4 linked regions of the Homo sapiens genome follow. The protein of the gene in region 3 interacts with the protein of the main gene of each other region in a pairwise test. Each region holds a gene or a part of one and is shown on either strand. Other genes may lie near its edges.

Region 1 (7,035 bases), on a different chromosome or scaffold from region 3:
AAAGGACATTTCCAAGCAGCTCCCATTTCCCTGGACACCCCGCCCCTGCTCTGCCACCCACAGCAGGGAAATCATGGGATGTTAGGAACTGTGTCCTCATCCCTGCCCTACTCCATTGCAGGGATGGCAGGGGGAGATTGCAGGGGTAGTGACTGCAGAGGGAGCCTGAGGCTTAGACAGGACTGGAGAGGGGGCACTGCATGGCTTCAGTCCTTCAGCCCCACAGGCTTCCCTTAGTCCCTTCCTCCCAAAGAAGCCAGGCCCCCAAGCCCCTTCCAGGGATCTGCTGCCAATGCCCCCTCCTGCCCAGTGTCTGTGTCAGGCCCATACCCCGCACCTCCCCACCCCACCCCCGCCCAGCTCTGCACTGCCTGGTTCTGGGCAGCTGGTGTGTGGGAGGCCAAGCCGGGAAGGAAAGGGGGGAAGGGGGTATCTGTGTACTGGGAGCCCACCTGGCCACCTGCGCATGCCCACACTCCATGTGCACAGTGCCAACTCACATGCCCTGGTACAGGTGACCCCCATCCCCAAAAGGGACTGAAGGTTGCTCCAGCAATCACAGAAGACAGCTCAGGTGGGGCACACACTGGCTTCTAACACCTAGTTGACCCAGGCCTCGCACACACAGACCCTGAAGGGTGGTCTATGGGGAAGGGGCTCCTGGACCGCCCCCGGCTTGTGCCTCATCTTCCTATTTTTTCAGTCCCTCTCACCCCTTGCTCCCGAAGCTTCCTTTCTCTGGCTGTCACCTCTCCTGTCACCCACTTTGTCAATCAGTCTCCCACCTGTCACCCTTCCTCCCCATCTGCCACCCTCTCACTCCACATGACACGGTACCTCTATGGTCACTGTAGTCTTGCCTGTCTCCCCACTCGCTCTGCCCCCCACCACATCCATGCCCTTCCTGACCTTTCTTCTCTGCCGGTTGCTCCCTGTCTCTCCCTCCATCACCTGTTTCCTCACCTGACACCCCACTGCCCCATCTCCCCACCTCGCCGCCCAGGTTCTCTGTGAAAACGCTGCTGGAGAAGTACACAGCGGAGCCCATCGATGACTCATCGGAGGAGTTTGTCAATTTTGCAGCCATTTTAGAGCAGATCCTCAGCCACCGCTTCAAAGGTGGGCCCAGCGCCCCTCCCCCAGCGGTCCCTCCCCCAGCGCCCCTCCCCCAGTGGTCCCTCCCCCAGCGCCCCTCCCCCAGCGGTCCCTCCCCAACTCCCAACCTTTAGCTCCCAGCCACCTCTTTCTGATATACTCCATGGACTCTGAACCCCCTCATTGACCCTGGCCCCCATTCTGGGCCATGCACAGAAGCTTGTGTACAGATCTGGGAAGAGGGAGAGGCCTTTGGCCTACAATCCCCATCATGGGCAAGCGATATGCTGGGGTGCCCACTGCACACGTGCATGTGTGTGCACAGATCTTTGTGGGAGGAGGCTGCTTATGCTTATGCATGTGAGTGCCTCACTACATGGACCCTCTCCAAACTCCCTGGTCTTGCTGAGCCCCCTCCCTGCCCTGGCTCAGCCTGTGCCCCAGCAGGTCCAGTGAGCTGGTTCAGCTCAGACGGGCAGCGGGGCTTTTGGGACTATATCCGGCTGGCCTGCAGCAAAGTGCCCAACAACTGTGTGAGCAGCATCGAGAACATGGAGAACATCAGCACAGCCCGGGCCAAGGTGAGGGGCCTGAAGCAAGCAACTGCTCTCTGCTCTGGACACAGGGGGCCTGCCTGTTTCTTGGTTTTTGCCCCCTGTGCACAGCCCAGGGGAGAAGGGCCCACACCTGATGCTGGACACATGAGTCCCTCTGGGGCAGCAAGTAAAGGTGAACATGATTTCCAGGGCCGGGCATGGATCCGGGTGGCACTGATGGAGAAGCGCATGTCAGAATACATCACCACGGCTCTGCGTGACACCCGGACCACCAGGTCAGACTTCCCAGGCAACTCAGACCACAGGTCTCAGAGTGCACCTGCATTGCCCAAACACAGCTGATCCTTAAGTTCCTGCAGCATCCTTCAGTTCCTGGACTACAAGTCCCAGCACCAGCACACATGGCTGATTTCCCTCTTCCAGCCTGGCCTGCAGTCCCAGGACGAACTCTTTTTTTTTTTTTTTTTTTTGAGAAGGAGTTTCGCTCTTGTTGCCCAGGCTGGAGTGCGATGGCGCGATCTCGGCTCACTGCAACCTCCGCCTCCTGGGTTCAAGCGATTCTCCTGCCTCAGCCTCCTGAGTAGCTGGGATTACAGGCATACGCCACCATGCCCAGCTAATTTTGTATTTTTAGTTTCTCCATGTTGGTCAGGCTGGTCTCAAACTCCCAACCTCAGGTGATCCTCCCGCCTTGGCCTCCCAAAGTGCTGGGATTACAGGCATGAGCCACCGCTCCTGGCCCCAGGACAAACTTTTACCACCACCACCACCACCACTTGCAAGTCAAATCTAATGCCCATTATTTGCCATCAATGCCCAGCACGCTCCACCCTTGCACACCTCTGGATGAGCCTCAGCCATGCACCATCTCAAGTGTTGGCTTGCTCCATGATCTACAACACAGCCCTTCTGTCTCTCCAAACAACGAAAGCAGTTCTGTACTTGCTATTCACGGACACAGAGTCCTTATATGGGGAGTTCAATCCCTGCACTGTGGGTTCACAGGGAGGTTGGGTGCCTGAGGCAAGGGGTTACAAGGAGGAGTGTGCCTGTGTGGGCAGGTGCATCTGAAGCTGTCTGGGTGTGGCGGGGGGCATATACCTCCCCATCCCAATTGGCCATACCCAGCCTGATGTTTTTACTGAATTCCATTCCTCAGTCTACACGTTTCAAGTTAACACGTTTTTTGCGCACCTACTGTATACCAAGCACTAATGATTAAGACTTGCTTCCTGATATGAAGGATCTGGGTAACCCAGTACTTGATGAGGAAGGGGTAGCTCAGAGGGAGGAGTCGGCTCAGGGAACACCCATTCTAGGTGATGGGGCCACAGGTGCGAGCCCCAGGCTGAAGGGGGAGAGAGGCTCCAGGCCTGCGTGCAGATCAGGAAGGAGAATTGGCCTTCCTTCAGGATGGGGTGGCAGTAAGCCAACAATAGCAGCTCTGGGGGGGGGGGGGGCGCTCCAGGGGCCTGCTGCATCCTCTGGCCCTCTGCCTCCCCACAGACGGTTCTATGACTCTGGAGCCATCATGCTGCGGGATGAAGCCACCATCCTCACCGGAATGCTGATCGGACTGAGCGCCATCGACTTCAGGTGGGGTCTGCCTGACGGCAGTGGTGGAGGGGGCTGTTTCCCCCATAAATGTCCTACCCCAACCCCTCACACCCACCTCCAACCCTGTGGCTCCTCTGCCTCAGCTTCTGTCTAAAGGGGGAAGTCCTGGACGGGAAGACCCCCGTGGTCATCGATTACACGCCCTACCTAAAGTTCACGCAGAGGTGAGCGGCTCCATGACTGCGGCGGGGCGGGGGACGGGGCCTCGGGACATCCTGGGGACGTCCTGGTCCCACCGCCCTCAGCGGCCAGCGCAGACGCGCGGGGGGAGGGGCGGGACCGGCCGTGCCCACTGCTCCCTCTCCCAAGCTACGACTACCTGACGGACGAGGAGGAGCGGCACAGCGCCGAGAGCAGCACGAGCGAGGACAACTCGCCCGAGCACCCGTACCTCCCGCTCGTCACCGATGAGGACAGCTGGTACAGCAAGTGGCACAAGATGGAGCAGAAGTTCCGCATCGTCTACGCGCAGAAGGTGCGCGACGCCGGCGGGCCCGGGGGGCGGGCGGGCCGGGCGGGGGATCCGGGCATCCCGGGGCGGGGCGGGGATGGGGGCCGCGGCCGGGACGTCCTCCCAGCCGCCCGGGCTGAGCCGGCGCCCCGCAGGGCTACCTGGAGGAGCTGGTGCGTCTGCGCGAGTCGCAGCTGAAGGACCTGGAGGCGGAGAACCGGCGGCTTCAGCTGCAGCTGGAGGAGGCGGCGGCGCAGAACCAGCGCGAGAAACGGGAGCTGGAAGGCGTGATCCTGGAGCTGCAGGAGCAGCTGTGAGCGCACGGCCTGCCCTAACCCCTGACCCCCGCCGCCCCGACCACATCACCGGGTGAACCCCATCTTCACTTCCATCGACTCTAACATCACCCGACACGAGCACCCACCTCTCCAGCATCAACCCTCTGATCCAGCCAGCCCCACCCCGAGATGCCCACAATGATCTTCTAACATTGCCCCCAGCATAAGATCCAGTGACTTCCAACAGCCAGAGCCCACCCTTCACCTTCAGTTATCTTCCGCTAGAGTGGCCATCCAACCTTACTGCAGGGACCCCACGTCACTCACAAGGACCTGCGGTGTTGCTCTGCAACCTTCAACACGATTGCATTCATCGCCTCACTCACCTGCACCACAGGCTCACTGACCGTCATCATCCGCCGTGACCCCCGACCTCACCCCTGCCGATCCCTGTAACACTTCTTCTCTACGCCTTTCCACCACCCTGATCTTGCGGCAAGATCCCCAAGACGATCTTACACTTCAGGGATTCCCACACTATCCTCCACTGACGTCCCCATCACCCCAGCTGACCCCAACAACACTGCACCATTCCCTCCAACTCCCAATATTTGTGCACGAATCCCTGTCACCCCTCCACCCCAGTACCACCTCCACTTCCTCCCGGGATCTGGCCCACTGACCCCAACACCGTATCCCCATTTTTGCCGCTCAGATTTCATTCCTGACCCCTCCCTCATCCCCTTGCTGAATCTCCCTTCCTCACTTCTCCTACTTCCAGCCAGGCCTGACTCCTCCTCCCCCTCCCAGGACAGGTCTGATCCCCAGTGACCACGCCCCTCTGGCCCAGGGTTCCAAGGAGCTCACTACACCCCTGGTCAATCAATGGCCCTCACTGGGAACGCTTAATGGGGCCGAGGGCGCCAGCAACTCCAAGCTCTACCGGAGGTAAGCCCCAGCCAGGTGGGGCTTGGGCCTGAGAGCGGGTCGTCCTGGGGAAGAAGGGCTTCCTCTACCGGCGCACCAGCTCTCGCTCTGCCGCAGACACAGCTTCATGAGCACGGAGCCGCTGTCAGCTGAAGCCAGTCTGAGCTCGGACTCCCAGCGCCTGGGAGAGGGCACGCGGGACGAGGAGCCCTGGGGTCCCATCGGTGAGCTCCCCCAACCCAACACCCAGTACCCCTCCAGAAAGGGCTGAGGCAAGGCCCTGAGGCCTCAAGGCATGTCCTCATTCATTCTCTTAGTCTTTTTTTTTTTTTTTTTTTTGAGACGGAGTCTCACTCTGTCATCCAAGTTGGAGTGCAGTGGCGCAATCTCAGCTCATTGCAACCTCTGCCTCCCGGGTTCAAGGGATTCCCTTGCCTCAGCCTCCCGAGTAGCTGGGATTAAAAGCGCCTGCCACCACGCGCAGCTAATTTGTGTATTTTTAGTAGAGACGCGCGGCTAATTTGTGTATTTTTAGTAGAGACGGAGTTTCGCCAGGCTGGTCTCGAACTCCTGACCTCAAGTGATTCACCCACCTTGGCCTCCCAAAGTGCTGGGATTACAGGTGTGAGCCACTGTGCCCGGCCTCTCTCAGCCTTTCTTGAGGGTTTAGCACAGCAATCGAGAGCTTACTTTGAGGTGGCAGAACACAGCATATGCAGAACCCAGCATAAATCTGGCTGTGCCTCCTCTGACCATGTGAGCTTGGTCAATCACTTTACCTCCATGAGTCTATTCTTTGTAAATGGGGATGTTGATAATCACCAATGTTGTCACATGGTGAGGGCTCAGTGGTTTTTTAGTGTCATGACATCCTCGGGGGCTCACAAACTCTCGGGGAACTCCTTAGACTAATTTGCTCTTATCTCATGCACACTGTGAACTACTTGCCTGACCATTGTTTCCCCCTTCTCTTTGGCTGCCAGGAAGCTCAGAGCCAAATTAGTGGCTCCCTTCGAGCGAATGCCCAGGACTTCAACGCATGCACTTTGTGTTGACCTCATCCCTGGCTTCACCTTGGTTTTTCCCATCCTAGTTCTCCCTATGCCTGAATATCCTGTCTTTTCTTTTTTATAAGCAACCACACTGTATTGGATGACCCTAGATCTTCTTTGAGACAAGGCAGGCTGTGGCCATGTAGCCCCATCACACTGTGTTTGTGATTGTCTGTGTGTCTGTCTCCCCCACCAGACTGTGAGCTCCATGAGGGCAGGGACCGTGTCTTGTCCGTTCTCTGTATCCCCAGTGCTTGGAACAGAGCGAGTGCTCACTGTGTATTTAATAAATGGACAAAGAGAGAGGATGACCCTCACGGGGAGACAGAGACATCAACTGACGATTACAATACAGTGTCCCCAGCACGGTGCCTGGCACAGGCAGGTGCTTAACCAAAGTTTAACTGAAAATGGCAAATGCTGTGGAATATGCCAAGGTCTCCTGGGGGGTGACTTGAGGGCTGCCCCTTCACTGCCCACCCCTCTACCAACTCCCACACATGTAGACTGGTCGCTTGGCCTCACCTGCCCTCTCTCCCCAGGGAAGGACCCCACGCCCTCCATGCTGGGCCTCTGCGGCTCCCTGGCCTCCATTCCCAGCTGCAAGTCCCTGGCGAGCTTCAAATCCAACGAGTGCCTGGTGAGCGACAGTCCCGAGGGCAGCCCAGCACTGAGCCCCAGCTGAGGAACAGCATGGGCAGTGCCAGCCCCACCTGCCAGGGGCCATGGACACCTGCCACCTTTCTTCAACAAGAGTCCCCCAATCCAGGCTACCCTTCCAGAGAACGCTACCCACCCAGCCAGGGTTCTCTCGGGGAAGATCTCGTCTGCTCACCTTAGCTTTCTGCCTTGGCAGCACGGGCTGCGGAAGAAAGCACGCTGGGCCAGGAGGCAGGGGTGCCCAAGCCACAGGGAGCCCCTGGGGAAGCCTGCTCCATTCTTCTGGTGACCTTGGCGCTCCTTCACTCATCTCCCCTGCCCCCTCAGGAACTGGTGGCCCAGCTTCCACACCCCCACCTCCCAGTCTCTAGCCTCTCCATCTGTCTGTGTATGGCCTG
Region 2 (7,479 bases), on a different chromosome or scaffold from region 3:
CTGGATGAATCTCTGGACTCCTTTTCCTCAACTACAAAATAGGGTATAAAACAGTATCTACTTAGACCTGGCGCTGTGGCTCACGCCTGTAATCCCAACACTTTGGGAGGCCAAAGTGAGCAGATTGCTTGAGTCCCTGAGTTCGAGACCATTGCTTGAGTCCCTGAGTTCGAGACCAGCTTGGCAATAGGATGAACCCTCCCCCTCCTCTCTAATAAAATACAAAAAAAAAAAAAAAAAAAAATTAGCTGGGTGCGGTGGCACGCACCTGTCGTCCCAGCTACTAGGGAGGTTGAGGTGGGAGGACTGCTTAAGCCTGAGAGGTGGAGGCTGCAGTGAGCTGAAATCATGCCACCGCACTCCAATCTGGGTGACAGAGTGAGACCCCGTATCAAAAACAAAACAAAACAAATAAACCAGTATACTTATAAAAGTAAACAACAAGCCGGGCGGGGGCGGTGGCTCATGACTATAATCCCAGCACTTTGGGAGGCCAAGGCAGGCGGATCACCTGAGGTCAGGAGTTCAAGACCAGCCTGGCCAACATGGTGAAACCCATCTCTACTAAAAATACAAAAAATTAGCCAGGCGTAGTGGTGAGCCCCTGTAATACCAGCTACTCGGGAGGCTGAGACAGGTGAATCGCTTGAACCCAGGAGGCGGAGGTTGCAGTGAACAGAAATCAAGCCACCGCACTCCAGCCTGGGCAACAAGAGCGAAACTCCGTCTCAAAAAAAAAAAAAAAAAAAGAAAAAGAAAAGAAAAGAAGGAAAAAAAAGTAAGTAACAAATACAAAGCACTTTAAACAGCAGTCAGTCCCTGGCACATCAGAGTTATAGCCATAAAATAAAGATATGCAATCTTCTGAAGTATGATTCACGATTGTGTCTTATCTTTAACTCAAAATTAAAAATGAATTACAAGCAGAAATGTGCACCAGATTTCTTATCATTCTAAATTTAAATGGTTGAATGTGTCCTCCTCAGCTAAGCATTTTAACAGCCACTGATGAGCAATCTAGTAAATTGAATTCGCTCAAAATAAAGGTTTCCCCAAGAGTTCCCCCCACACCACAAATCAAGAGCTCTGATAAAGACACCATCCAGAATCAACTGAATGTTTATATTAACATGTACAAACCACTGAGTACCCCCCCAAAAAATCAATATCTCACTCCAGTTTAGTAGTTAACAGTGACAAAACACAAAGCAACTAGCTTGTAATTTCTATTAAAAACTTTAAATATTTTTCCTGTAAAACCACCAAAATAATTTAACAACAACAACAAAAAATCCTAGGGGTATTAACAAAAACCAACTTTTGTATTTGAAAAAACGTCAAAAGGTACATTGAAAACTGACTCCCTAGGAAAGATGAGTTTATTTTACTATTAATTTCAAAGTTCTCATTCACAATTAGCATTTCACTCTTTTATCTTTTAAATAGATACAGGCTTCAGCACCTTTCCAAATATTGAAATTTATTGGTTTTGGTTTCCAATCTATGACTTTTTGTTTAAACTTCTGGATCTATCGATTAAAAAAAAAAAGCAAACAAAAGACAGTCTCTTGTTCAAAAGGGCACGACAATCAGGTACTCCATACCTAAAGTATGTTTTCACTTGTTAAAATGTCTTACACTATTCTAGTAAATATCTCAAACTTAATAGCACCCTAATTTCCTTTCAAATATTGGATAAAAAAGACCTTAGAAAAGATCAGCAGTCTACTAAATTACAAATATAAGTCTAATGAGGAGTGACTACCAATCACTTTACTTTTGGATAAGATTTACACAAGAACACGACTTACTACTAAACTAAAACATGAACCACTATTATTAACTGTATTTTTCTGGTAAGCAATAAATGTCAATGTTAAAAATATTTCAACAAATATGACAAGCCAACTTCAGAGCACGAAGTTGGCAGATAAAATTGACACCACAGCACAATTTCAAAACTATAAGCAACTATTAAACACACACACCACCGCACCGCACCCATTCTTATGTAAACTTTTGGAATAGTCAACTTTGTGAGCCTCACCTTTGTTTTCACCCAGCATAAGGAGAGTTAAAGGTGAGACACCAACTGCAAAAAACCAAAATATCAAAAGATTCAGTTAATGTCCCCACAGGGGAAAGGACTAAAATCTTTAAACGTTAATGTATTTAAGTAATCGAAGGGCAGGGCACTTCCCCAAGCTACAGCCATTTTGGATTCAGACTGTCTTTCGAATTTCACGGGTTGGGGAGAACTAGATTTAAAACAACAGAAAAAAAATAACACTTAAAACATTTCAGGATCGACCAGCTTTCCCTGCCCCTCCAAGGAAAGGAGGTTGGTAGATATCGGATAGACTCAATCTAAGCGAAAACACCTCGCTACCACAGAGAACCGGAAAGCTGGGGGTTAAAACTTTTTTCCCCTCAGATATCCAACATTTGACTTACACTTTTTCCTCCTTAGGTTTTCCTTTGAAGGAAAACAAAAGCCCTTAGCTCTCATTTCAAGAAGGAAAGAAAAAAACCCGTAAGCCAAGTCACTCAACGAGCACCAAGCCGGATCGCCTGGAGAGGAGCCAAAGAGCCGCAGGTGAGCGTTCCGACCCGACGACCGAAGTTAAAGTAGGAGCGCTTTCGCGGAGCCCCGGCGACGCTCGCGTGCAAAGCTCCATGCACGGGGGAGGCGGGGGTGCCGCATCCGAACCACTTGACCCGTGGGCTCCGCTCGCCCCTCTCGGGTCGGACCTATACCCAACCACCTGTGTGAGAGCTTCTTTCAACTAGTTTTAACAGCCCGTTGGTTAGGCACCGGGCGGAGCCCCGCGCCAGAACGACTCCAGGATCTCCTACTGCCCCGTTTCCCAAACTCCCACTCACCGGGCAGCGGCGGAGCTATGGCCAGGGACTAGACGCTGCGTCTGAGGACGCGTCCCCAGCTTGTCGACCCGGCAGAGGCGGCTAGTCCACAACCATAACAAAGCTCTTCCCAAAATGGCTGCCCGGCCCACAAGGTCCAGGAGGGGCAGAGCGGGTGGAGGAGGAGGAGCGACCAGCAGCACGGCCCTCCCATCCCCCGTCCGACCCCGCCTTACACACGCCCACCTGAAGAAGCGCATGCGCAAGGGACTGCTCCGGCGACCCTCCCGGACGCCAGTTCCCTACGCTGCCAACGTTCGGCCTCCAGAACGGCGGTTATGCCCTGCCCCGCCCCCGGCTCCCTTCTTCGCCGCTTGAGGCGGCGCATGGTCACCTCTGCCCCCTACAGAATTGAATCCTCTGCCTTTCCTCGTGCCGCCTGAGGCACGGACAAGCCTAGTTTAGTACGCCCCTTCTAACCCCCTTGCCCACTTCCAGGGCCTGGGCGCGTATGAATGAGTGGGTGGGTATGCATGTGTGTATCCCTTTTTTCTTCACCCTCCCACAGCCCGCCCCTTGGCCAGTGCGCGTCCCGAAACTACCTCTACAAGGACTTGCAAACCGGTTTCGGAGGAACGTGTGTTTTCCGGCCCTTTCCCACCTTCCGCTCCTTACTTCTCGTGTGCGCGTCGTTGAGACTCCAGTCCCCAGCGGGCCACACGGCCTGGCCCCGGAGGCTGCGCGGCTGCGTCGGCCGCGCTACCCGCTGGGAGTAGTAGTTCCCCTGGAGCGCAGGCGTCACTCCCCCGCCCAAGCGAAGGGCGGGATTCCGGCGAGAGCCTGCGCTTGCGACAGTGCCGTTTCTCCTACCTGAAGTCTCATTGGGTATCGCACTACTGGAAGGGGCGGCGCTGCCATGACAGAGAAGGCAATAAAACTGAAGGCCTAGCTCGACTAAAAGCGCTTACTATTAAGGAAGACTTCGCTGTGGCTCCATCCGGCACGGAAAGCTAAACCGTGTAATGGCTGGCAACCAGGAAGCTAGACTACCTAGAATCCGGAGGATTGGAGGGACTGGCCGGCGTGGGCCCCTGAGATCTCCTACTACATGTCTTCAGTTTTATCCATAGACACGGAAGGGCACTAAAATTGCCTGGTGCCATTTCCTGTGAAACAAGTCTAGATAAGAGAAGGGACTTGCCCAAGGTCACATAGCCGAGAAATAAAGCCGAGGGCAGTAGGAGAAATGATCTGACTTTCCGAACCACCCCCAAGCCTAGGGCCCTTATCACCACACCTTTCATGGAAGTGAAAATCCTGCTCTTGTGCTCTTTAACCCTTAATGAAGTTTATAGGTCCCAGCAAAGAAAATGGATGTAAGAACTGGGCTTTTTTCCCCCTCTAAATGATAGTAAAGGGCCCTAATGCAGTGAGATGTGTCCCCATAGGCCTTATAAACCCTGTTTTGCAAAGTAAAACATAAGTCCCACAGATGGCAAGCAATTCAGGTCACACTGGGCCTAAAATCCCGTCTCTTACCTTCCTTCACCACCATCATTCTGAGATTGTTTCAGTACTTGCACTCTACTTACCCGAACTCTGTGGGCAGATTCTGCTGCCTGGGAGCCCTGGAATAGAACTTCAAGGACCGTTCAACATCTGGATTCAACTAGAAATTAAGAATGGCCCCCAAACAGAAAGCCGGGCCTAGGAACCAATTAGCGCAGGTCAAGTCCCTACCCGGACTCATTTTTTTTCAGCCCTCAGGAAGTAGGGGCCTCTCTGAATCCACTTGCCGGAAGTGCCTTTCCAGTGGACCTGGGCTGTTGTTGCGGTTGTTTTCCTTCTCTCCGTGCAACGCTGGCAAGTCTCAAAGTCGCCACAGGTGCAGGTTGGGATGGGAGGCACCAAGGGTTGGTAGTAAATTTGCGACGTTGGGATGGGAGGGCACCAAGGGTTGGTAGTAAATTGGAGACGCGGGCACTCTCGGGCAGGGTTTCCCGAAGACACTGGCGTCTAAACCCCGCCTTCCTTTCTCAGAGGTCAGTTTGAAGCTGGCAGTTTGCAGTCTTCCCACCAGGGCAATGGGAATATTGAGCTTTTTCATTTATATTAGGAGGATTAAGCTTTGAGTCTCAGTCCTTAATCCCGCATCACCTGCCGTCCCTGGACTTTTTAGGTTATCACTTTTTAATACCCACTAGTTGGAAAGCACGTGCCACAGAGGAAAGGGAGTTTCCAAAGATGGGGGGATGGTTGAGATTTTAAATGGAGTGGTCTGGAAAGTCCTTAAGAAGAAAGTGATTTTGAACAAAAGTGATGGGTACGCTCTGCGGGCATTTTGGTCTGGGGCTCAGGTGGGTGGGTGTGGGTGTGATCTAAATTCTACTCGGAGGCCCAGGATTACTTACCTCCCTACTTGCTTCCTTAAGTATAGTATGAAGACATTAACTGGTATACAGGATTTCTTGACCCAGCCCTAAGATCTGTGATCAATAAATTAGTTCAATCGATTTTTTTTTTTTTTTTTTGAGACGGAGCTTCGCACTGTCTCGTGGGCTGGAGTGCAATGGCGCGATCTCGGCTCACTGCAACCTCCGCCTCCCAGGTTCAAGCAATTCTCCTGCCTCAGCCTCCCGAGTAGCTGGGATTACAGGCGCCTGCCACCACGCCCAGCTAATTTTTTGTATTTTTAGTAGAGACGGGGGGGAGGTTCACTACGTTGGCCAGGCTGGTCTCGAACTCCTGACCTCGTGATCCACCCACCTCGGCCTCCCAAACTGCTGGGCTTACAGGAGCGAGTCACTGCGCCCTGCCCAATCGATTTTTTAAAATTAAGCAGCAACTGTAGGTTTTTTTAGACATCCCATTCTCTTGGTTAAGAATGAAATTGTCAGATCTAGATCCATATTATCATTCACCTGTTTTTACTGGCTGCTTACATTAGAGTTTTTAATCAGTCCCTCCTGTGTAAAGTGCTTTGTGTCAGGGACGGTTCTCAGCTATTTACATGTAGTAACTTATTAAGTGTTATATCAGGCTAAGTGGCACACACCTGCAATCCCAGCACTTTGGGAGGCCGAGGCAGGTGGATTGCTTGAGCTCAGGAGTTCAAGACCAGCCTGAGCAATATGGCAAAACCCCTTCTATACAAAAAATACAAAAATTGGGGCCAGGCACGGTGCCTAATGCCTGTAATCCCAGCACTTTGGGAGGCCAAAGCAGGCGGATCACGAGGTCAGGAGATCGAGACCATCCTAACATGGTGAAACTCCGTCTCTACTAAAAATACAAAAAATGAGCTGGGCGTGGTGGCATATGCCTGTAGTCCCAGCTACTCAGGAGGCTGAGGCAGGAGAATGGCATGAACCTGGGAGGCGAAGCTTGCAGTGAGCTGAGATGGCACCACTGCACTCCACCCTGGGCGACAGAGCAAGACTCCGTCTCAAAAAAAAATTGGCTGGGCATGGTGGCGTGGCCTGTAGTCCCAGCTCCTTAGAGGGCTGAGGTGGTAAGATCCCTCGATCCCGGGAGGTCAAGGCTGCAGACAGCGGAGAGCACGCCACTGCAGTCCAGATTGGGTGACAGAGCGAGACCCTGTATCCAAAAAAAAAAATGTTACATCAACCCTATGAATTAGTATCCATATTTCAAAGGTGAATGAACTGCACCATAACAAGATTAAATAATTTGTTCAAAGACACACAGCTAATAAGTAGTGGAGCCAGGATTCCAACCAAGTTTGACACCAAAGTCTGCACTCCAACAGGCTATTCTCTCTCAGTACTAAGTTAATGAGGTTATTTTGAGCATTAAATGAGTTAATGCTCACCGGGCGCGGTGGCTCATGCCTGTAATCCCAACACTTTGGGAGGCCTAGGCAGTTGGATCACCTGAGGTCAGGAGTTCAGGACCAGCCTGGCCAACATGGCGAAACCCCATCTCTCCTGAAAATACAAAAATTGGCCAGACATGGTGGCAGGAGCTTGTAATCCCAGCTACTTGGGAGGCTGAGGCACAAGAATTGCTTGAACCCGGTAGGCAGATGATGCAGTGAGCCAAGATCGCGCCACTGCACTCCAGCCTGGGCGACACAGCAAGACTCTTGTCTCAAAACAAACAAACAAATTAAAAAAACCTAAATTATATTGGTTGGTACTATCGTTATTTTGAGTTGTGAACTCTTAAGCCCCAAAATAGGAGGAAAAAAGGAAACAGAAGCTATGACCTTCCAGTTTTGTTTTGGTTTTTTTTTTAATTTCACAAAAACACCACTTAGAAGACCCTTCATTTTAAAGATGAGAAAACCAGTACTCAAGCAATTTGCCCAGTGTCACACAGCTAGGAAATGGTGGAAGTATCTGTAAAATCTCTATGTGCATTACTCTTTCTATTACACTAGACAGCCAAAGCTAAAAGAACAGTTCAGATACTAAAAGGATCTATTTTGTTACTGTGTTACCGACAGTTTGAAAACATTAATGATTCTTTTCAAAGGAAAGTGTTATATTCATGAATTACTACTATTTAAAAATTAATGTATAAAATGAGGAAAATTAAGTGACACCTTGTGTTATACACAGAAACATGCCCCTGATTCAGTGCCTCTGCTTAGCT
Region 3 (3,037 bases):
CCCCATGCTGTTTAGTATTGGGAGGTCTCCATGCTCTTTGAATGGCAGATGCAACCTAACTACCGTAGTCTCTAAACTGAGTATGGAAGGTGGCCTGATCAGATGTCAAATAAAAGAACAGTATGTACCTTTTTATCTTTGAACCTCCTCCTTGAGAGCAGCAACAAGTTTCTGTTATCTGACTGGCTGTCAGTTCAACCAAAGTGAAAAATCAAGCCACTTCTATGTAAAAAAGGGACCCAGTGAGGGCTCTGTAGCTCTTAAATACCTCCAGTATCCAGTAAACAGTATGTCTGTATTTAACATTTGACACTTATAAAATTCAACTTATATGCCTAGTCTCCGTAACTATACAGTGAGTGACTGAGGAGCCACTTTTAAGAAATTAAGGAACAACAGTTTTATTTGTAATAGTACCAAACTGGAAACAACTAAAATATCCTTCAATAGGTACATGGTTAAACCACATGGCACATCAATACCAGTTAAACCACGTGGCACATCAATACCATGGAATACTATTTGGCAATAAAAAAGGAATTAACTACTGATCATATATATATATATATCTATCTCTCAACTTGGATGGCTCTCAAGAGCATTGTGATGAATGAAAAAAGCTAATCTCAAAGGTTGTGTATTATGTAATTCCATTTATATAACATTCTCATAATGACAAAATATAGCGATGAGGAACAGATTAGTGGTTCCTAGGGTTAGAGTTGGTTGGGAGTAGGTATGGCTACAAAAAGGTAGCATGAGGGAGATCATGATGATAGTTCTCTATCTTGGCTGCAGTGATGGTTACACAAATCTACACGTGATAAAATGGTAGGGAGCTATTTGTACACACATTGTACCAATGTCAACATCCTGGTTTTGATACTGTACCATAGTAAGACAAAGTGAAAAAATTGAGGGAAACAGGGTTCAGCCTACAGGGACTTCTCTGTACTATTTTTGCAAATTCCTCTGAATATAATTATTCCAAAAAAGAAAGTTAAAAAAACACAAACTTGCACATGCAAGAAAACTGACAGCAAGATAAAATGAATCAATTTTATTCCAATTCTTCAAAATTTATACGTAATATGTTGTTTCCAAAATGTAAGTCACCCTTTATATAATAGTTTTATTATTTCATCTTTCTTTGATAGTTTTTTTTTTCATCTTTTCTTTATGGTTCTTCAGTAGAAGCCAGAATCTTGAGTTGCCCAGTTAGGAGCCTAAAATATGCAAAAAGAAATCAACACCGTGAAAAGAAAATACTTTCGGAAAAAAACTAACATAGAAGAAAGTAACACAGCATTTACTTCAGCACTATAGTCTCTTGCCAAACCATTCTAAGATCTTAACTCCTGCAATTACTAGATGTCAGATGTCCCACTCAGGACAAAACAAACACCAAAATTATTATCTGGTATAGCTTTTGGCCAATTAAAATATATAGCAATAACAGTATCATTAATACTGGAACAATAAATGATACAAATTAATCCTAAAGCATACAGAAAAAAACATCATATGAAAGTTACTTTCTAGGCTCAGTTATTCTAAACTTGGCTAAAATATGCAACTTGAATTCTAATGCATCCTTCTCATTTGAACTAAAGGATTATTCTGCGGACACAAATTTGTTCCTAAAATTTCAATCAAATGGGGTCTCTGCATATCCCACAACTGCTTCCTAATGACTTCCTACCCTCCAGTTACACATAATCATAATGTCTAAACAACACAGTTTAGGATTCCAAAATTATAAGGCCATTCAAGTTTCTTCAATCTCTAACATGCAGGATCTCTATCAAAATGGGAGATTAATTTTTGATATGAATATCAGATGAAAGATAATGAAATTTGTATAAGATCAGCACTAATACATATAATAAGATCAACATTTTTACAGAATTATTTCTTTAGATTTAGAAAGAATACACATTTCGAACACTTGAAAGAGGGCTACACATGTAAGTTATCATCTGCCAGTATCAAAATGATGTGTTGAAAACCCTGAGGAAATGAGTTAATGAAGTCACACAGGAAGAGTCAAAGCAAAAGAAAAATAGTTATAATAAACTAGGAACACAATTTCTTTTTCAGTTTCTATGTTTAATGCATATAATACATCTAAGAAAAAATTTTCTGTTTAGTAATTTCTTAAAAATGTTCATATCTTTAAAGAGAAAAACAAAATCAGCTACAACTCATCAATACACTTTGAAACTTCATGTAACAATTACATGGTTGCTAAACCCCAGACAGAATAGAAGATGTGTGGTTCTTACCTCTGACCTGCTATTCTGATTAAGTTTCTTCTCAATATTCATGGCCAACATCTGGCTTCTAAAGGAAAGGCTTTTGGTCTTTTCAATCACTTGCTGATAGGGTGAGACTGCATTGTTACCCATAACCACATGACCCTAAAAGGAAACACAGGGAAATTGATCCTATAATGTTAATGACTGAGTTTCTCAGGTAAGTAAAAAGCATGACATACCTTTGCGCATATTTTAATGCACTGTATAGAGATGACAATATTTACCAAGGAAGAAAAAAAATAGGAGGCTTCTGTTGCCTTCAAAGAACTGTTTTACATTAAAACAAAATAAATTATTAAAGGAGGTAATAAAATGTCCTAGTTAAGAATTCCCAAAAGTATAATCAGGAACTGATAGTATGTAGCATAGCTAACATAATACTCACTAATTTAGAATCAATCTTGGCATCCAGTCTTGCATTTCTAATCAAATTTACAATCCACCTTTCAGCTTCTTCTGGAGTCATGTTCAATTTATCTGCCAACATGCTAATGAAAAAGTAAAAACAGCAATGTTAATTAACTGGGCCTAAAAACTTAGTTTTATGTACACAGTGTTGACTCACACTCTGCATAGATACTTTTTGGTATTTCTGGATCACCCTTCTCTTATATACCATGACCCCTACTGTCTGATTTGTTCATGTGCTTGTGCCTATTGACTTGTACTATGCACGACCTATTCCATTCACCAACTGGACTGTAAAATCCTTGAGGGTA
Region 4 (7,299 bases), on a different chromosome or scaffold from region 3:
CGCCTGTAGTCCCAGCTACTCGGGAGGTTAGGCAGGAGAATCACTTGAACCCAGGAGGCAGAGGTTTGCAGTGAGCCAAGATTGCGCCACTGCACTCCAGCCTGGGTGACAGCGTGAGACGCCATCTCAAAAAAAAAAAAATTCCCCAAATCCAAGCCCTTTGACTTCTCCAAGGCTCAGGGTCACCAGGTATACATGTCATAAAATGACAACAATCGTGGTCCTTCACACCCCTATACACCAGAGAGAAAGGTTATGGGGAACAGTGAGAACCGCCAGAAAACTTAGAAAATTTTAATGTACTTTCCAAAAGTATGACAAGGACAATTCCATGCATAAAAATCTCATAGTACTTCAGTTCACAACCGAAAGTTGCCGCTCCTCCTAATTAAAGTTAAAAAAAAAAAAAGTCCGAAAACTTTTCAACTTTTGCAGGACTCTTATCAGAATCCCAATTCTTGGGAAATCCTCCGCTCATTATGGAAGAGGGTTAGTGATAACAGAGAATTTCTACAAAGGTTGGGTCATTTTTCAAGGCTGCATACACGATGCTAGATATTATCACTTGAAAGTTTTACATTTCTTCACACCTCGAGTGCTTGGCCCAACACACACTGCTGGAAGTTTTCCACAGAGCTCTCCATCTGGCCAGCTCAGGCTTCAGAGAGGCAAAAAGCCTCTGTAAACCAGGGAAACTTGGTACATCCCACAAGACAATCCGAACTGGCTCCTGGTCCGGGGACTTGTGGGACGCAGTCCTGAATCATGCCTTACAGTAACTTACACTTTACCAAAATCTTTAATAACCAGTATCTCATTCCCTGCTTACAAAAGAATAGCCCAGTGAGACTGGTAAAGATGACTAGCCCAATTTTAAAACCAGGGAAATAAATAAGCTTTTAAAATGTAAAAGTAAAAATACAGATAAATAAAAGATTTAGGCCGGGAGTGTTGGCTCACGCCTGTAATCCCAGCACTTTGGGAGGCCGAGGTGGGCGGATCACATGAGGTCAGGAGTTCGAGACCAGCCTGGCCAACGTGGCGAAATCCCGTCTCTACTAAAAATACAAAGATTAGCCGGGCGTGGTGGATGGCGTGCGCCTGTAATCCCAGCTACTCCGGAGGCTGAGGCAGGAGAATCGCTTGAACCCAGGAGGCGGAGGTTTCGGTGAGCCGAGATCGTGCCACTGCACTCTAGCCTGGGTGACAGAGACTCCGTCTCAAAAAAATAAATAAATAAAAAATTTAAAAGTTTAGGTGCGCTTCCCCAACACAATCACTTGTCCCAAAAACAAGCACCGAACAAGTACCATTCAGAAGCAAATTGTAGTCCCTTTTGATGTTCATTTAAATACAGATGAAAACTTAATTATCAATGCTAACTCAATCACTGCTGTGCCAGATTCAGCATAAGATTTTGTCAGCACCTAAAATTCTGTATCTAGAGCTACAAGAGGCACGTTTTCTGCCAAATCTTCGTTATATTACATAATGAGAGGAAGCTTGGATTCTTAAAATTCACCTTTTCCCATCATTTTAACACCCTGTTCCAATCCCTTCTTTCACAGGATATTTTCTGGAGGTGAAAAGGAATAACTCATTACTTCTCATATTTTCCTGCCCACTTTCTTGCATAAATATTAAAAATAAAGGGGAAGGTAGGGTCCTGAACATCTCCCTAAAAGATAAAAAAGTTATTAAATGTGGTAAACAGAGCCTGGAGACCTAGCTTCTAGTTCTGCACTGACACAGTATCACTGCGTGACCTTGGGCAAATTACTGCAGTTCTGGGCCTCAGTTTCCCTCATCTGAACCCTAATGATGGTTAAGCCCTCTCCGCTCTTAAAGCACAGATTTTAGATACGTCCCCAGGGAAGCACAACTGTGAAGGAGTCGCCCAGACGGACTCCTTGGGCGGAGAAACGGCCTTCCACAAGCTCCGGCGGGGGGATTCACAGGGAGCTCAAGCTGCCCCAGGGAAAGCCACTGGGCAAACTTCAGGTCGCAAACAAAAACCTGTTGGCACCGACTCCTCTAGCAAAGGCCAGCCTCCCAACGCGCTCGGCTCTCGGCTCTAGGGGAGCCGCCCCACAGGGAGAGAGAGGAAGTCTCTCCTGGAAGAGGCCAGACCCCACGCACCCATTCACCCACCCGGATCAGCCGAGCAGGACCGCCGGGCCGGGTGGGTCTCTGCCATCCCACGCGGAACAAAAGGCAGCTGGAGCCTGGCTCTTCCGCCCCCGTCCCCGCTGTTCCGTGGGAGTGGGGGCTGGGGAGTGGGGAGCCTGGTCCCCAAGGACGGAAGGGGGCCCTGCTACAGCCCCCAGGAAAGGTGAGACGGGCGGGATCCCGGACAGAGATAAGGACCCCTCCCCCGATTCCCGGAGGGCGCCCGGACCGGGCTCTGCACGGGGGCTGGCGGGAGACCAGGCTGGGCTCAGGAGGAAGGGGCGCCGGGCTCGGGGAGAGGAGGAACGTGCTCTGGGGAGGGGGCGGGGTTGTTCCAAGATGAACGGGGCTCCAGGATCCGAGGTAGGAGTAAGGGGCGCCCTGGACTCTGGGGACATAAAAGGAGATGCTCGGTGATAGGGACGGGTAAGGGGGGAGATCCTTGCAGCGGAAAGCTGGATCCAGATGGGAAGGGGGCCATGCTCCAGTCCGTGGGGCGGGGCCTGGTTGGAAAGAAGGGGATCCCCCAGAGCCTGGCGTAGGGACCAGCGGGGCGGCAGGGGCGCATGCCCTGGCGGGGCTGGTGAGGTAGGGGAGCCTGTGCTCTGGGGGCGTCCGCGCCCTGGAGAGGGGGAGGGTCCTCGCCCCGGGGACTCGCTCTGGCCTTGGAGCCCCACGGGCTGTGGCTCACCTCTGCTCCTCCGGGCCGGCGTGGGTGCGCCGCTGCGGCCACCGGCAGCGCTCGAGAGGCGGGAGCGACCGTAGCCCGCGGAGCCGCCGCCACCGCCGCGTCTGGCTCAGTTTGACACCCACACACCAGCCAACATGGCGGCCGGGAGGGGGCGCGCCGGACGCGTGCGCGCGCCCTCAGGCCCCGCCCCCGAGGCCCCGAGGTCCCGCCCCCACGCCCGCAGACCACGCCCCTGCGACCCCGCCAGAGCCCCTCCCTAGTGGCCCCTGCGCGGCTTCCCCTCCGCCTCCTGCGCTCCAGGACCCCACGCGGACGACCCACCCTTCCGCAGCGCCCCACAGTCGACGCCCGAGCCCCCAAAAAACCCCCAATCCCGAGCGCCACACAAACCCTGGCAAATTAATACCCGAACGCGCGCACTCTAATCCCCTTCAGGCCACTCCACCCCGTACACACTCACGGCCCCCCCACACTCACGGCCGGGCAGCACGCGCAGACCCCGCCCCGTCAAGCAGAAACTCACGCTCCGGCCTGCCGGTTTCACTCAAAAACCTTGTTCAGTAGGAGAGACTGGAAGGGGGCCAGGGCCTGCCGGGCGCTGGTAGGGTTGGGTTCTTAGGCTACAAGTGTGTTCACTTTATGAAGATGCGCGGAAGTACACTTTGGATTTGTGCGCTTTTCCGTGCGTGTATTTCACGTCAATAAAATATACTCAAAAACGGAGAAGTCTCTAGGCTTCTTTAGGCTGCTCAAGGGGTTACCTAAGGGCACGAATGGCAAGGGGTTACCTACATGGCACGAAAACGGAAACCCTTGACTGGCGGGCACCCACAAAGCACCTCCTCTGTGCCAAGCCCTGTGCTGGGCACAGAAATGAGACAGCCCCAAATGCCTCGAATGAGAGTCCCGGAACTGGAGGGGCCAGAACTGGAGGCTGCACCTCAAAGCTGACTAACCTGCTCCAATCAGGGTGGGAGTCAGCAGAGACTTCTCACAGCAGGGGCGCGGAGCATGAGTCAGGGCTTGCTAGGTGGGCAGAGGGCACCATCCCTGTTGCCTGGGTGACATCAACACTCTGCCTAGCCTTGGCTTCAGGGAAGCTGTGGCCAGAAGTCTTCCTCTGCCCTAACTCACTGAGGGACCTTAAACAAGTCACTGTACTTCTCTGAGCCTCAGATTCCTCCTCCCTGTACAGGAACCAGGGGATGAAAGTATCCCTTAAGGTTCTAACAACCCAGGATCTGGAATTCCATTCTCTGGCAAAAAAAAAAAAGGTTGTATCTTTCCAGGAATTCATCTATTTATTGTAAGTTTTTTAGTGTGTGTGCATAGACGTGTTCATAATAGTTTTTGAGGGCTTTTTTGTGTTTGTATGGGGTCGGTGGTAATGTCCTCTTTGCCCTTTCTGATTATGTTTACTTGTATCTTCTCTTTTTTCTTTATTAGTCTAGCTAGTGATACAATAAATACGATAAAAATGGAGAGAGCTTGTAACACGTTTGCAAAACCACATAGCCACTTTTCCTTTGAAAAGTCAAACACTGGTAGCTCTAGATGCTAGAAACACTCTCCAGTTAACCACCCTTCCCACTGCTTGGTGCCCCTTCTCCACCAGCAGAGGGAATTATGCCCTATGTGCCTGCCTTGCAGCAGAAGCCGGAGCTCCCCGTTTTGAACTTGGTCCACCCTCATCCCAGAGAATGCCCTCAACCAGTCCAACATTCCTTGTGAGCCTCACCTCTTTACCCCATCTCCAAGGAAAGCAGAACTTTACACTGCAATCATGCTTCTGCCCTGAGTTTACAATGTCAGATGAGTTATAACACAGAGCTGATGCACAGCACGGGCGTGATGCTTCTAAATCAGCACTGTTCAGCAGAATTTCCCTCCACGATGGAAATGTTCTTTCTGCGTGCTGTCCGTAGGATAGCTACGAGTCACAGGAGGCCAGCGAGCACTTGAAATGTGGCTAGTGAGACTGAGGGGCTGAATTTTTTAAACTTCATTAAACTTTTATTAATTTAAATGTAAATAGCCATATGTGGCTAGATGCTACCATGCTGACCAGTGCTGGTCTAAAACCTTACCACAATTCCACAAGTGCACATTCTTTTTTTATTTATTTGTTTTGAGACGGAGTCTCACTCTATTGCCCAGGCTGAAATGCAATGGCACAATCTCAGCTCACTGCAACCTCCATCTCCCAGGTTCAAGTGATTCTCCTGCCTCAGCCTCCCACGTGGCTGGGATTACAGGCCCGCACCCCCACACCTGGCTAATTTTTGTATTTTTAGTAGAGACAGGGTTTCACCATGTTGGCCAGGCTGGTCTCGAACTCCTGACCTCGTGATCCTCCCGCCTCAGCCTCCCAAAGTGTTGGGATTACAGGTGTGAGCCACCGTGCCCAGCAAGGTGCACATTCTTGCTGTTCACATTTTACAGACAAGAAATTGAGGTTTGGAGATATGCTGGGGCTTGGCCACCCAGGCCCACTTTTCCATATGCAGAGCCTAATACTCCCTTCACTACCCACCTAGCAAGTGTGTGTAGCCGCACAGATAATATGCAAGCCTGGAAAGAGAACTGGATACAGATAATGAGATGATGAGCTAACCTACAGGACAGGAAGTGAGTTGGAGAATACCAGATTAGCCCAGGCTTGGGAAGTGGAGGAGGGTGTCCTGAGGCCGGAAGACCGCCACGTGCAAGGTCAGAGGGGACATTCTTGCATTCCTCAAAGTCATTTCTCTTTCCTGGACCCCCTCCTTGAAGCGTATCAGCCCCCTGGCATTCCTCTCTCAATTCATCCTCATGATGATCCCTTGACGTCAGCAGCCCTATTCCTATTTTAGATGCGGAAACTGAGGCAGCATGTGGCAGGGCTAGGATTCAATTCCAGGTTCTATGAGTCTAGAGCACATAAGCAGTCTTGCAGAGGAACTTGCAGGATAAGCTGAACAATTTCATCCGTGCCCAAAGCAGTCCATGGAAAACAGGGCTGGAGGAGACACTCTCATCTGCCCTTGCAGAGGTTTGGAGGTTGGTTCCAGGTGGATAATGGAGCAGACTGATGGGGGCCGGTTGGAGAGGTGTATTTCAGAAGAAAGAGCTGGCAGTGCAGGCCAGGGGTGTCTCTGGGGTTAGGGAAGGAGGGTTTCAAGCAGGAAGGGACTTTGGGGGAAAGACTGGCAGGCAGCAGACAGGGACAGACTGCATGCTGAATGAAAAGAATCACTTAGCACAGGTGCAGAACAGGCTCCCCGGGATCTTCACCAAAGGCTTGAACTCTATATTCAAAACTATTTGTCCCACAAAAAGAAACTTGTGTTGGCAATCCAGAAACACCTAATTTCTTGTCCACCGACTTGCTGCTTGACCATGACGTCACTGCCCCTCCCTGGACCTCAGTTTCCCCATCTGTGAAGTGGGAATAATAACCCCTCCCACTCCCTAGGATTGCATTCTGGCTCAGGTGAAAAGGCAGAGGAGGAAATGCTTTGGAAACTGTAAATGCACTGGATGGGTGTTGATGGCAGTTCTCTTATTAAGGACATTGAAAAGAATGGAGCCATCCTTTCCCTTCTAGGGGTTGAAAGTCTAGGACAGAGAAGTTTTGAGTTTGGGCAGCATGAACATGAGCAGAAACCAAATGCCACATAGACAATCAAGAGAAAGAGCTATGACAGCTCTCACAGGAGGAAGTTTCCTTCTAGCCCATGGGGAAGGAAGGACCTGTGCCAACATCCTGGAAGTGCAGGTGCTGGAGAAAGGAACTAGTAACAATGACAACAAAGTAGTGAGCATTGTGCAAATGTTTTGCATGCAGTACCTCATTTCCTCTTCATAAAAAACCCTAAGAGGTAGAGACTACCGTTATCCTTATTTTACAGCTGAGGTTCAGAAAGCTTCCATTATTTGCCCAAGATAACACAGCTAAAAAGTGGTAACCCTGGAAAACCCAAGCCTAAACTCCAAAGCTAAACTTTTTTTCTTTGTTTTTTGAGACGAAGTTTCGTTCTTGTTGCCCAGGCTGGAGTGCAGTGGCGCGGAGTTCACCGCAACCTCCGCCTCCCAGGTTCAAGCAATTTTCCTACCTTAGCCTCCCAAGTAGCTGGAATTACAGACATGTGCCACCACACCTGGCTAATTTTTGTATTTCTAAATTTATTTATTTATTTATTTATTTAAGATGGAGTCTCACTCTGTTGCCCAGGCTAGAGTCCAGTGGCGCAATCTCGGCTCATTGCACCCTCCGCCTCCCTGGTTCAAGCGATTCTCCTGAGTAGCTGGGATTACAGGCATGTGCCACCATGCCCAGCTAATTTTGGTATTTTTTTAGTAGACACGCCGTTTCACCATGTTGGTCAGCCTGGTCTCGAACTCCTGACCTCAAATGATCCGCCTGCCTTGGCCTCCCAAAGTGATGGGATTACAGGCAT

Evidence for each region.
Region 1: the proteins of EIF3E (region 3) and RUNDC3A interact in binary tests that used the Homo sapiens proteins (3 or more experiments, as listed by UniProt).
Region 2: the proteins of EIF3E (region 3) and GPBP1L1 interact in binary tests that used the Homo sapiens proteins (3 or more experiments, as listed by UniProt).
Region 4: the proteins of EIF3E (region 3) and EPN2 interact in binary tests that used the Homo sapiens proteins (3 or more experiments, as listed by UniProt).

What each region holds. Positions count from the first base shown.
Region 1 is NC_000017.11:44,311,577-44,318,611, forward strand, and holds part of RUNDC3A (RUN domain-containing protein 3A), read left to right. Parts: intron 1-1,003; coding exon 1,004-1,119; intron 1,120-1,527; coding exon 1,528-1,676; intron 1,677-1,841; coding exon 1,842-1,927; intron 1,928-3,158; coding exon 3,159-3,248; intron 3,249-3,352; coding exon 3,353-3,433; intron 3,434-3,578; coding exon 3,579-3,744; intron 3,745-3,875; coding exon 3,876-4,033; intron 4,034-4,808; coding exon 4,809-4,946; intron 4,947-5,042; coding exon 5,043-5,149; intron 5,150-5,460; coding exon of another isoform or gene 5,461-5,547; intron 5,548-5,908; coding exon of another isoform or gene 5,909-5,928; exon of another isoform or gene 5,929-6,285; intron 6,286-6,519; coding exon 6,520-6,662; 3' UTR 6,663-7,035. UniProt on the Homo sapiens protein: May act as an effector of RAP2A in neuronal cells.
Region 2 is NC_000001.11:45,683,529-45,691,007, forward strand, and holds the start of GPBP1L1 (vasculin-like protein 1), read right to left. Parts: upstream 3,006-7,479; 5' UTR 2,884-3,005; intron 2,093-2,883; 5' UTR 2,048-2,092; intron 1-2,047. UniProt on the Homo sapiens protein: Possible transcription factor.
Region 3 is NC_000008.11:108,200,698-108,203,734, forward strand, and holds the end of EIF3E (eukaryotic translation initiation factor 3 subunit E), read right to left. Parts: intron 2,807-3,037; coding exon 2,704-2,806; intron 2,421-2,703; coding exon 2,286-2,420; intron 1,227-2,285; coding exon 1,188-1,226; 3' UTR 519-1,187; downstream 1-518. UniProt on the Homo sapiens protein: Component of the eukaryotic translation initiation factor 3 (eIF-3) complex, which is required for several steps in the initiation of protein synthesis.
Region 4 is NC_000017.11:19,233,093-19,240,391, reverse strand, and holds the start of EPN2 (epsin-2), read right to left. Parts: upstream 3,027-7,299; 5' UTR 2,861-3,026; intron 1-2,860. UniProt on the Homo sapiens protein: Plays a role in the formation of clathrin-coated invaginations and endocytosis.